3 linked regions of the Homo sapiens genome follow. The protein of the gene in region 1 purifies or fractionates together with the protein of each later gene. This does not show direct contact. Each region holds a gene or a part of one and is shown on either strand. Other genes may lie near its edges. The genes, in order: MMRN1, RNASE7 and CTSH.

Region 1 (3,651 bases):
CTTTGGGTTACACAGAATTTAAAAAAATAATAATAATTCCTCTGTCTAAGGAATATTCCCTATAAAAAGTAAACACTAACATACCTATCAGACTTCAAAAAATGTTAATATGTGCTATGAGAAAACAAGATACTAAAGGTATAACTTGCTGAACAGAACTTTATCCTCTGGATTTTCTAACAAAAATAATCTTAAACTCCTTCTATAGAAAAGTACTAACTGCATGTAGGGATTCTCTTATTTGAGGTCCTGGAGAGCCTGAGGTTTTCTTTTAGTAATCCTTTCCATTACCAAGATTCCTTACTCATTAGGCCATGCAAATGACAATGGCATTAGAGAAAAGCCTAGGTCCTTCACTTTTGGACACAGTGCTGCTGCAAACCCTTGATATGGTCAAAAGAAGTCCTTCGTACTTTCATTTGATTGGCAAATAATAATAATAATAGTAGCAAACACTTATATGGCATCTGTTACTAGTACTCTACTATTGTCAGTGAATATATTCACTCATTTAATCATTACTATAACTCCATAAAGAAGAGGAAGATTTTTATCATTATTTCTTTACAGAGGGATTAAGTAGCTTACCTAAGGTCACTTGGCTAACAAAGCTCAGGGCAAAGACTCAAATCCAAGCTGGCTGGCTTTAGAGTTGTAGCTCTCAGCTCCTACATTACACTCCCTTGGCAGGTACAGTCTCTTATCACAAGTGGGAAGATAAGCGTGACCAGTTCACTTCCCAGCTCGTGAGGCTTCACAGGCTATTGGTTGCCTCCAGAATACAATCTAGATTTGTTACCCAGTTAGTCACACGATGCCATCCTAGATCTGCCTCCTGCCTACCTCCCCAACCTCATCTTCCGCCACTTCCGGCTATTCAAATAAGTGGTTCTCTGGTACAATATGTGCTGTTTGTTAAACCCACCTTTCTTCCCTGTCTGCCCCTGTGACTAACAATGGGCCCTCTTTTGCCATCGTTCTCTCTTTTCACACCTAATAATAACTCCAGGAAGCCTTCTCAGGTGAAGTTAGGTGGCCTTTCTAATCGCTCCTACAGGTCTCTTTGAATTCCCCTGTTCACTGCACTTACGACACTACATAATAATCATAATGAATTTGTAGTATCTTTGCATATAGGGACTTATTTTCAGAGCTAGCAAAGTCTCTGGTTTATAGCAGGTACACAATCAATATTTAATCATACTGAATGTGAAATATGAGGATTAATATGTGAATATAAAGAAGAAAGCTTCCCAAATATTTGCATTTGTTTATGAAAAAAACCTGGTTGATTTAGAATAAACTCATATTTGTTCTTTTTTCTACCATTCTTGGAATTTTATAATAATTCTTAGTAAAAGGCGTATTTATGTTTATTACAGGTTCTTTTCTAGATTATTCAGGATTATTCTGGCATATTTTTGTTTCATCTTGTAGTTTTTCTTCTTTTTTTTTTTAGCCTTGCAGGAACTCCTGGCCAAAATAGACCTATGGTTTCCTGTCTGGCAGAGTGGGTGTTAGTCAATGACCAAGCACTTTGAAATAGGAAGGATGGAAATAAGAAATTAGGATTAGTGTATTTATATGTTGAACAAATATTTGCTGAACACCTTATCTGTCCCAAGCACTGTGCTTGTGCTGGGAGTAAAACAATGAACAAGAACTCCTACATGTCCTGCCTTATGGAACCAACAGCCCAGTGGCAGAGGTGAGAGGAGGAATAACAGTGAATCACAAATGCTGATTCTGAATGAAGCTTAAGAAATTGTAGTGTATAATGGGGGGAATGGCCTACCAATTGTGAATGGGGTCAGTAAACCTTGCCTGAGAGGATAATAGGTGAAATGAGGTAATGATACAATCTAACTGCCTACTTAGCTTTTCCCACAATTCCCAACCCCTGTACACATGTATCTTAATTTTTACCAAATCAGTGAATGGCTAGTTCCATAACTAGAAACCTTGGATAGATCTTTGGCATTTTTCTCTCCCTTCTGGTTTTTATCTAATCTATCAAAAAGTCTTGTTACACCTCTAATACATCCCAAATACCTCAACTTCTCTCCATCTTCTACTTGCCGTTATTCACCACTAGTGTTCTAATTGGTCCACTTCTTTCCACTCTTGTCTACCATAATCCATGATCCACAAAAGGGAGGGATCTTTTGAACATTTAAGTCAGATTAATGCATTTCACTGGATTAAGTCTTCATTATTGTAAGTGACACATTATTTTAGGTACTAATCAGAAGGAAAAGTATGACATCATACTTGCTTAATTTGAATTTTTAGATTTGTCTTTCAGACTTTGAGATTTTGGTCACATATCACTTTTGCAAACTTAAGAAGGAAATGTAAATGAAACTGGTAAAGTATTTCGAAGGCAATGGCAACAACTGCTATCTGACCACTAGTGACTGAAAAATGCCTTTGATTTCAAGACACATTCTTGATTTCAGAGATGTATGTCTTAAAATGTGTGAAATTTGGTCTTTCATTCATTGTCACACTCCAAGATCACTGCACTTCATTTCCTCCAGCCACACTGGCTTCCTTTCTGTTTATTGAACATGTCAAGTTAATATCTCAAAGGAAACTTTTTTTGCTCTTGCTGGAATGCTCTTTCTGCACCTTTTATAATGAAGGACTCCTCTTCCACTTGCACCTCCAGCTTTAATGTCACCTCTTCAAAGGGACCTTCTCTTACCACCCAATGTAAAGTTAACTATGCTCTCACTTGCCATTCCTTATTTTGTCACCTTTATTTTTTTCTTTGTAGGAATTATTTGAAATTATTCTACTTATATAGACAATGGTGTATTTTATGTCTTTCCGCAATACATCCCATGAAAACAGGGACCTTGCCTGTCTTATTACTACTCTATTTGCTGCCTAGAACAGTGCCAGGTGCATAGAAAGAGCTCAATAAAACTCTGTAAAATCATGGATTATTAGATGGGTTTGGCATCCAGAGGGGAGATCAAGGCTAGAGATATAAATTTGGCAAAGCATTGGTATATAGAAATGTATTAAGTCATGAATGTGGATGATACTGAAAGAAAGAAGGACCTTGAATTATGAACGGAGAATCTCTAATATTTGATGAACTGATAGTGGTGGATGCCAACAATACAGTCTTAAATGGGGTGACCAGAGAAGTTAGGAAGGAATCTATAAAAGTGTGGTGTCATAGAGCAAAGGAAGAAAATATTTTAAGAAGGAGGTAAGTGATCAACAGTGTGAAATGCTGCTGAAAAAGACAAAATGAGGACTGAAAAATAGCCACTATTTCAGTTTAGTGAGCACCATGCTCTGGCCTGAGAGAATTGAGGTATGAAGGAAGGCAAAAGAGAGCCATTAAAGCCAACTCAATTAAGGAGGGCTTTTATGAAAAAAAAAAAAAAAAAAGGAGAAAGTGGTCAGAAGCCAAGGCTAGTCCAGTTATTTATGTTTTGTGTTTGTTTCTTATAATATTTCATTTTAAATACAGAGGGCTCATACATATGTTAACATGTTAATGAGAAGGGTCAGAGGAAGGTAAAATTTGAATATGCAGAAAAAGAGGGATTTTTTTTCTGAGTTTAATGACAAATTAGAAAATTAGAAATTATTATTTCTGAGTTTAATGACAAATTAGAAAATTATTCTGAG
Region 2 (3,751 bases), on another chromosome or scaffold:
GCCTGTTTGTGACAAGCAGGCTCAGGGCCACGGAAGTCCCTTAAGGTCAAAGGAAATGTGATCCTGGATCTGGGGGATGAAGCTCAGACACTCCCTTTACCTTATGTCTTCAGGCCAAGGGGATCTGGCCAGAGCCAGGTCCAGGGCCTAGGTTGGAAGAGCAGTGGTCTAGAGAAACGGGAGGGGCAGTTAGAGAGGAAGAGAGAGAAGGAATAAAATGCCAGAGCACCTCATAAACAATCTCTTGGCTAGAGAGGTAATGACCTTTATTGCAGCCAACACAGGGTAACTGGCTCTTCAGAGCACTCGTTTCTTCATGAGTGAACTCTTACCTAGTTCACCGCTTGCCTCTGTAACAGTGACTTCTTTCTTGCGCAACTGGTAGAGTAGAAGGTACACTGTATTTAGAGCAAGGAGACCTAGGTTCAAGTCCAGGTTCTGCTACTAACTAATTAGACAAGCTCTTTAATTCATTAAGCTTTCTAAAACCTTAATTTCCTCATCCATAAAGAAGGCATACAATCCCTGTCAAGTCTATGTCACAAGGGATTAGAGGATTCTATACAAATATGAAGTGGTATTTATTTATATTTTTCTTTCCTTCAGGTCACCTCACTGCCACGTCAGAGCTGGGGAAGACTTCTAGTTCAGGAACAGAAACAGCTGTGTCCACAAATCCCATATGCCCCCTTTCCATTTATTTCCTCTCCTTGTCATGCTGCCCTAATGCCAGGGGGCAGGGGAGACATGTGCAATGGCATAGACCAGGGAACCCACAGACCTGAGCTTGCTGTTTCTTGGGGATAAGCATCTGGGAAAACAGCAACAAAAAGATGAAAAGCCATCCCTCTAGAGCTCAGCTCACCAGAGTGTCAGCTTCAGCCTCCCAGCAGAGGCTGAACCAGGAACAGCCCCAAGAGATGAGGGGAAGAGAATGCTCTGGGTGTAGGGGAGTGGTGCGGAGTCCTGGAGAGGGAATTGAAGGTCAGCCAAAGAGCAAGCCAGTCTGGAAACCTAAAGGACTCTGTCCAAGTGTACAGGAACCAGGTGGAATTGCTGAGAGTCCTTTTTCTGGGGAGGCTTACAGGCCACTACGTAAGACTTGTTCTGTCGCTTCTCTTTGTACCTGCAGTTCGGATGCTTCCCTGAGGTGAGCTTACACATGGTCAGGGACACGGCCCCGTGGCTCTGGTGGCAGTTTTTATCGCCATTCTTGCAGGCTATTTTGGGGGTCTGGCAGGTGGCGGCCACACTGGAGAAAGGCTCGTGCAGGAAGGTGTTGAGGTCTTTGCACCGTTTTGTGTGCTTGTTAATGTTTTTCATGGCTGAGTTGCATGCTTGAGGGCTGGGCTGCATGTGCTGAATTTTAAACCACTGTGATGAGGTCATGCCCTTGGGCTTGGCACTGACTGGGATCTCTGCCACCCACAGCCCCAGCAGCAGAAGCAGCAGAAGGGGGCAGAATCCTGCTCTGGCCGGTGCCATCTCTCTTAGGAGGAGCAGTCAGGATGGAGGGCAGGGGTCGCTGGGACAGAGGTGTTCAGTTGAGAAATTAGTCCTCTTATACCTGCTCATATGAGCTAGTCACCCATCTCCCTACTCGGTTGTCTCCTTTCCTCACTTTGTGTCTCATCTCTGCCTCTTCTTCTGTGTGTCCACATCCACTGCAGCCCCAACAACAACCCTGTGGCCCCATCTCTCATCTTGTATTTCTGTTCCCTTCATTCTGTCCCTGTTGCCTGTCACTCTTTGTCCTCTCCCCTTTCCCTTAAGTCTCATCCCTTTTGTGTCTCCATGTTCCTGTGTCTGTGTCTCATCCTCTCCCGATTCCCATCTCGTCTGTGTTCCCATTCTTTTTCATTTTTTGCCTCCATCCCCAACATCACTCTCCCCTTTCCCCAATGCGTGTCCTCATCTCCCCTAAATCCAGTCCCTCCTTTATCCATTTTATCGCTCACCTGAGTGTACTCTCAGGATCAGAACCCATCCCTCCTTCTCTGTCCTCACTCCTCCCCAGATCCTGCCACAGCCTCACCTTTGCGCTTGGTCTTCGTGCTGTGACTCCTGCTCAGTGGGCTGAGGTGGTGTCCACGCACTCCTAGGCTGTCAGATCTCTGAGGGCCTCTTCTCACTCCTGAACTCCTTAAGAGCTGGCCCGGGCTACGCTGTGTCTGTTTGGGGGTGGGCTGGGAGCATCACTGGATCAGGAAATGAATCAGGTTCATGCCTCTCCACTTACATGTCCCAAATACGTGGACACCTAAGGATGCCTGTACCTGCCTAAACATGTTCAGCAATGAGGAAGCTTGAATCGTCACATTCGAAGACTGTATTTGTTCCCTGGCCACATGATTTTAATGACTCTTTAATAGAGCACCTGACCCAGGTGTCAACTGAAATCAATTTCAGGAAGAGTTGTCATTCATATCCTCTCATATACACTTCTGGCCCTTGATCCTGGGAAGAGTCAATCACTGTGGTGTTAAGGGTTGCTTCTTCTCTGACCTGAGGCACAGATAGGACAGCCTAGAAAGATGCTTTGTCTGGTTCCTTGTCATCTGGAGATACTGGTTATCTTTCGGAGGAGATGGAACAGACACGAGGGAAGTGGGTGAATGAATCATCACTGTCACGAGGCCTGGCACCATCCCCAATAGCGAAGCCATTCCACAATGATTCACAGGCCTCTCCAGTTCCAGGTACCAACCAAGGCCACATGGCTTTAGCTGGAGAAGGCAGCCAACACCTCTCAATTTCACTTGTTCCCTCCCTTTTTTATTGAAAATTGCAAAAATTTAATACTGCCCAAATGTTTGTGTTTAAAATGCTGTTGCTGCTCTCGACATCCTGCCTTAGTGCTTCCTTCACCTTGTATGTCCTGTTCCTTGTGGTGGTTACAGCTGTGTGGAGCATCTGGGTCAGTGCTACTCCAAGCTCTTGTGAGCTTGGAATATGACACTCAGGAGAACCGAGACACCAAGGCAGAGAAGCATCACCCTCTGTGGGTGAGAAGGCCTGTAAAACTGAGATGAGGAATATTTTTGTTTTCAGAATTTACCTGTAAGTAGTAGGCAATCTCAGAATCTTGGGCATGCTTCATTCATGTGGTCAACAAACATTTATCGAGCATCTACTAAGTGTCAAGATACTTGGGATATATCACTGAACAAAAAAGGCAAAAATGGCCAGGTACGGTGGCCCACACCTGTAATCCTAGCACTTTGGGAGGCCATGGCAGGAGGATTGCCTAAGGCCACGAATTCAAGACCAGCCTGGGCAATGTGGCGAAACCCTGTCTCTATAAAAAATTTGAAAAATTAGCCAGGCATGGTGGTGCATGCCTGTGGTCCCAGCTACTCCAGAGGCTGAGGAGGGAGGATTGCTTGAGCTTGAGAGATAAAATCTGCAGTGAAAATCATGATTGCACCACTGCACTCCAGCCTGGGTCACAGAGTGAGACCCTGTCTCAAAAAACAAACAAACAAACAAACAAACAACAACAAAAAACAAAGACAAAAGTCCCTGCCTTTGTAGAGCTTACATTCCATTGGAGAAAGACAGTAAAAAAAAATACGTATACTTTGCTCAAAGTGATAATGGCTAGGGAAAAAAGTAGAACAGTATAGGGGTTGGTGGTCAGTAATTTTACGTAACATCGTTGAAATCGCTGACTCTGGGGCAGAGACTTGAAGATAAGAGTGAACTTGTGATTATCCGGAGGAAGAATGTTCCAAGTGAAGAGACTAGCACT
Region 3 (3,651 bases), on another chromosome or scaffold:
GTAGCAGATGGTCCTGTGCTGGCTTTGGCAGAGGTGGGCACACATGGTGTGTGGTGGGAGCCTGAGGAGGGGCCTCACCCGGCCTGAGGAAACTCACTGAGAAGTGGAGGCCGAGTCAGAGCCTGTGAGGCAGGGGAGTGGGGACAGTCTCAGCCCAAAAAACAATGCTGGCAAGAGGCAGGTGCAGGGGTAAGGTCACAAGGAGGGAAGCGCAGCCCTTTCAAGGCAGGAGAGAAGGCAGCAGGACAAGGGACAGAACTAGAGGGAGGGTAGGACCTGGCATTTAGGAACCAGCATGTGGCTGGGCCTGGGCGTGAGGTTAAGAAGGGAGAGTTGGCCGGGCACGGTGGCTCACGCCTGTAATCACAGCACTTTGGGAGGCCGAGGCGGTAGATCACGAGGCCAGGAGTTCAATACCAGTCTGGCCAAGATGGTGAAACCCTGTCTCTACTAAAAATATAAAAAGTTAGCTGGGCGTGGTGGCGGGTGCCTGTACTCCCAGCTACTCAGGAGGCTGAGGCAGATAACTGCTTGAACTCGGGAGGCGGAGGTTGCAGTGAGCCGAGATTGCGCCATTGCACTCCAGCCTGGGCAACAGAGCAAGACTCCGTCTCAAAAAAAAAAAAAAAAAAAAAAAAAGAAGGGAGAGTAAAAGAGACAGGGAGACTGAGTTGGAGTCTGGGCTTTCTCCCGAAGGCCGCATGGAGCCTCGGCGGCATTCTGATCGAGGCAGGCGTGGGGTCTGAGCTGGGTTTGAGAGGCCTGGGGGAGGCCACCCTCAGGGGTCTGGATGGAGGCCCCGGTCTGAGTGGTCAGCGACACAGATGGGCCAAGGGAGTCATGTGAGGTCTGTGGTGGTCAGCAGGCTGGCGGCAGGGTGGGGTGGAGAGGGGGACCGGCCCAACAGGACTGTGGACACCTGGGAAATTCTGAGGGAGGCCAGTGCTGCTCATCACCACGAGGGGAAATAAAGGAGGAGCAACAGGTCTTGGGGAAAGACAAGGCACTTGGCTGTGGCCAGGCTGGGCGGAGGTGATGGTGGGAGGCCCAGCAGCCTTGATAGGGTAGGGGTGGGGGTGGGCCCCCAAAGGGTCCTTGGCACAAGAGGCCAACTGCATGGACAGAGGCGAGAGGATGGCGCTCGTGGCAGGAGGGAGAGGAGCCAGGAAGATGGGGCAGGTGGGGGGAAGGAGGGGTCCTGAGAAGTCTGGCTCGGGAAGGAAAGAGATGGTGCCGCAGAGCGGGTATGGGGTGAGAATGATAAAGAGGCCCCTGGACTGGTGAGAGCAGTGGGCTCAGGTGGGTGGAGGAGGGGAAGGAAGAATTTGGAGAGAACAGACAATTGTGAGAATTCCGGCGGGAGGGAGGTGGGGGGAGAAGGGATGTCTTCCAAGGCTGGGGAGGGAGTGAAGCTAGGCATGCTGTACGCCAAGAAGACAGAGTGGAGGCTGTTGGAGTTACCTTGCCCTGGTAGGGGTAGGTGTCTTCACCCATGATCCCCTTGTTGTACAGGATATACTCGAAAGCCTGGCTGGGGAGACCCCTGCAAGAAGTACACACAGGTGAGCCCACCTGGGGCTGTCCTGATAGAGGCGGGGCCCTCGGGGACTGGCGTGGCGAGATATCTGGCCTGGCAGGCTGGGGACTTGGTTGGGCATGTCCCAGTGGCAGAGGGGGTCTCTGAGAGGCCCAGCCTTGGGATAAGACTCAGCAAACTCAGATGAGGCCACCGGAGTCCAAGGACCAGCCCAAACATGCCTCAGTGGGATAGAGACCCCTTAAGGCCAGCCGCTCTGTCAGGAGTGCACAGCCCCACACCATGGTCAACAGCATCAGCCCAGAGCACTGTCATCGCCACAGCCGAGCCCCTGGGCAGGTGCTTCCCAGGCATGACTCCCTGACCCCTCGTGTCGACCCTGTGTGGTGGATGCTGTCACTGGCTGAGGCAAAGAGGCTGAATAACCTGGCCAGGGCCACACAGCTAAAGCTGGGAAGTGGTTCCAAAAGTGGGTCTTTTCTACATCATGTGGCCTCCCAGAATAAACAAAAACTCAGCAGCTGCCCAGCAATCCCCGTCCCTTCTCTGTTTCTCTCCATAGCATTCCGCACCGCCTGACCTAGTCTAGCCTTGACTGTGGTCTCTCTGAGCCTGCCAGAATGCCCGCTCTTCCAGTTCTGCTGAGCGCTGTATCCCCAGGGCCTACACACAGCGGGTGCTCTGTGATATTTGTTGTATGAATGAGAAAAGGAAGTACTGTCCTGAACCAAAGCAAATAGACTCCTTTGAAAAACAGGCTGGATGTGGTGGCTCACACCTGTAATCCCAGCACTTTGGGAGGCCAAGGTGGGTGGATCACCTGAGGTCAGGGGTTCGAGACTAGCCTGGCCAACATGGTGAAACCCCCATCTCTACTAAAAATACAAAAATTAGCCAGGTGTGGTGGCGCACGCCTGTAATCCCAGCTCCCTGGGAGGCTGAGGCAGGAGAATGGGGTGAACCCGGGAGGCGGAGCTTGCAGTGAGCTGAGATCGCGCCACTGCACTCCAGCCTGGGCAACAGAGCGAGACTCCATCTCAAAAAAAGAAAAAATAAATAAATAAATAAATAAATAAATAAATAAAAAATAAAAACGGTGGGACCCCAGAGTGCCCAAATGTCAGACTCTTGTTATGGGTTGGGTTTCTAAGCTGTGGAGTGGAAACAGACCAAAAGTAAGGGGACACTGAGCATGATGGTGGATCTGAGAGCAGGCTACGACGTCACCCCTGGGTCCCCAGGACTTGGCTGCAGCACGGCTCCCTGCAGGAGGAAGAGCCAGCTCAGAGGGGCTGGGGTCTGGGAGAGGGATGTGCCCCAGGGAGGTGGAGGGGAGTCGAGGCACGGCACCCCAAGAGCCTGGCTTTATGCACACCATGTGCCAGGTGAGCAAAGACCACAGAAATGTCTCAGAGCACTGCATGAAGGGAGGGCTAGAGTCACTGTAGAAATGTCAGCAAATTCCTGGCAACCTGCTTTACAGTGGGCCAGGAAAGCAGGTCCAGGCAAGGTACAGCCCTTACACACAGCCACCTCACCCTCACAGGGCGCAATGAGCTTGGGAGGCTGGGACTTTAGTGAGTTCATCTAAAGGCCAACCCTGTATCTGTGTGTGGATCTCGGGTTTGGAGGATGATGTGTAATGGTGTGTTGCTCACTCTATTAAATTCTTTTGGCCACACTCCCAGAGGCCTTGGTGGCGGGTGAGGCCAACCGCACTGTGGAGAGCCAGGTGATACAGTGGAGAGAGGACAGAGGCCTGGACTCAGATTCCAGCTCTGCCCTGTCCTGGCTATGAGACCTGGCCATGTGAGGTGACCACCCCTGTACAACAGAGACCATTTTGCCATCGCCCAGGGCAGTGGTGGGTTATATCTGTGGCAGACCCAGCACACACTGGATCCTGTCGAAGCGGTCAGTGGGAAATGAGGAAGTTTTGGGCCCCTTCTGGTCAGAGACGTACCCTTGGCAGCCGTGATTATTGAAGTCCTGGGCGCAGTCCACCAGCTGCTGTTCCGCCTGGAAGAAGGACACAACCCAGTGACCTGCCAGCTGAGAAGCCGTCAAGGCTTTGGCGTGAGGCGCTAAGCCTCCCTGGCTGAGCCACATCTGAG

What was found.
Region 2: the proteins of MMRN1 (region 1) and RNASE7 purify together in Homo sapiens (affinity purification with mass spectrometry; 3 studies listed by BioGRID and IntAct, with this or other methods). This does not show direct contact.
Region 3: the proteins of MMRN1 (region 1) and CTSH purify together in Homo sapiens (affinity purification with mass spectrometry; 3 studies listed by BioGRID and IntAct, with this or other methods). This does not show direct contact.

Annotation. Positions count from the first base shown.
Region 1 is NC_000004.12:89,897,765-89,901,415, forward strand, and holds part of MMRN1 (multimerin-1 isoform 1 precursor), read left to right. Parts: intron 1-3,651. UniProt on the Homo sapiens protein: Carrier protein for platelet (but not plasma) factor V/Va. Plays a role in the storage and stabilization of factor V in platelets. Upon release following platelet activation, may limit platelet and plasma factor Va-dependent thrombin generation.
Region 2 is NC_000014.9:21,040,727-21,044,477, reverse strand, and holds RNASE7 (ribonuclease 7 precursor), read right to left. Parts: upstream 2,117-3,751; 5' UTR 2,036-2,116; intron 1,526-2,035; 5' UTR 1,486-1,525; coding exon 1,015-1,485; 3' UTR 245-1,014; downstream 1-244. UniProt on the Homo sapiens protein: Exhibits a potent RNase activity.
Region 3 is NC_000015.10:78,927,951-78,931,601, forward strand, and holds part of CTSH (pro-cathepsin H isoform a preproprotein), read right to left. Parts: exon of another isoform or gene 3,647-3,651; coding exon of another isoform or gene 3,557-3,646; coding exon 3,501-3,556; intron 1,544-3,500; coding exon 1,462-1,543; intron 1-1,461. UniProt on the Homo sapiens protein: Important for the overall degradation of proteins in lysosomes.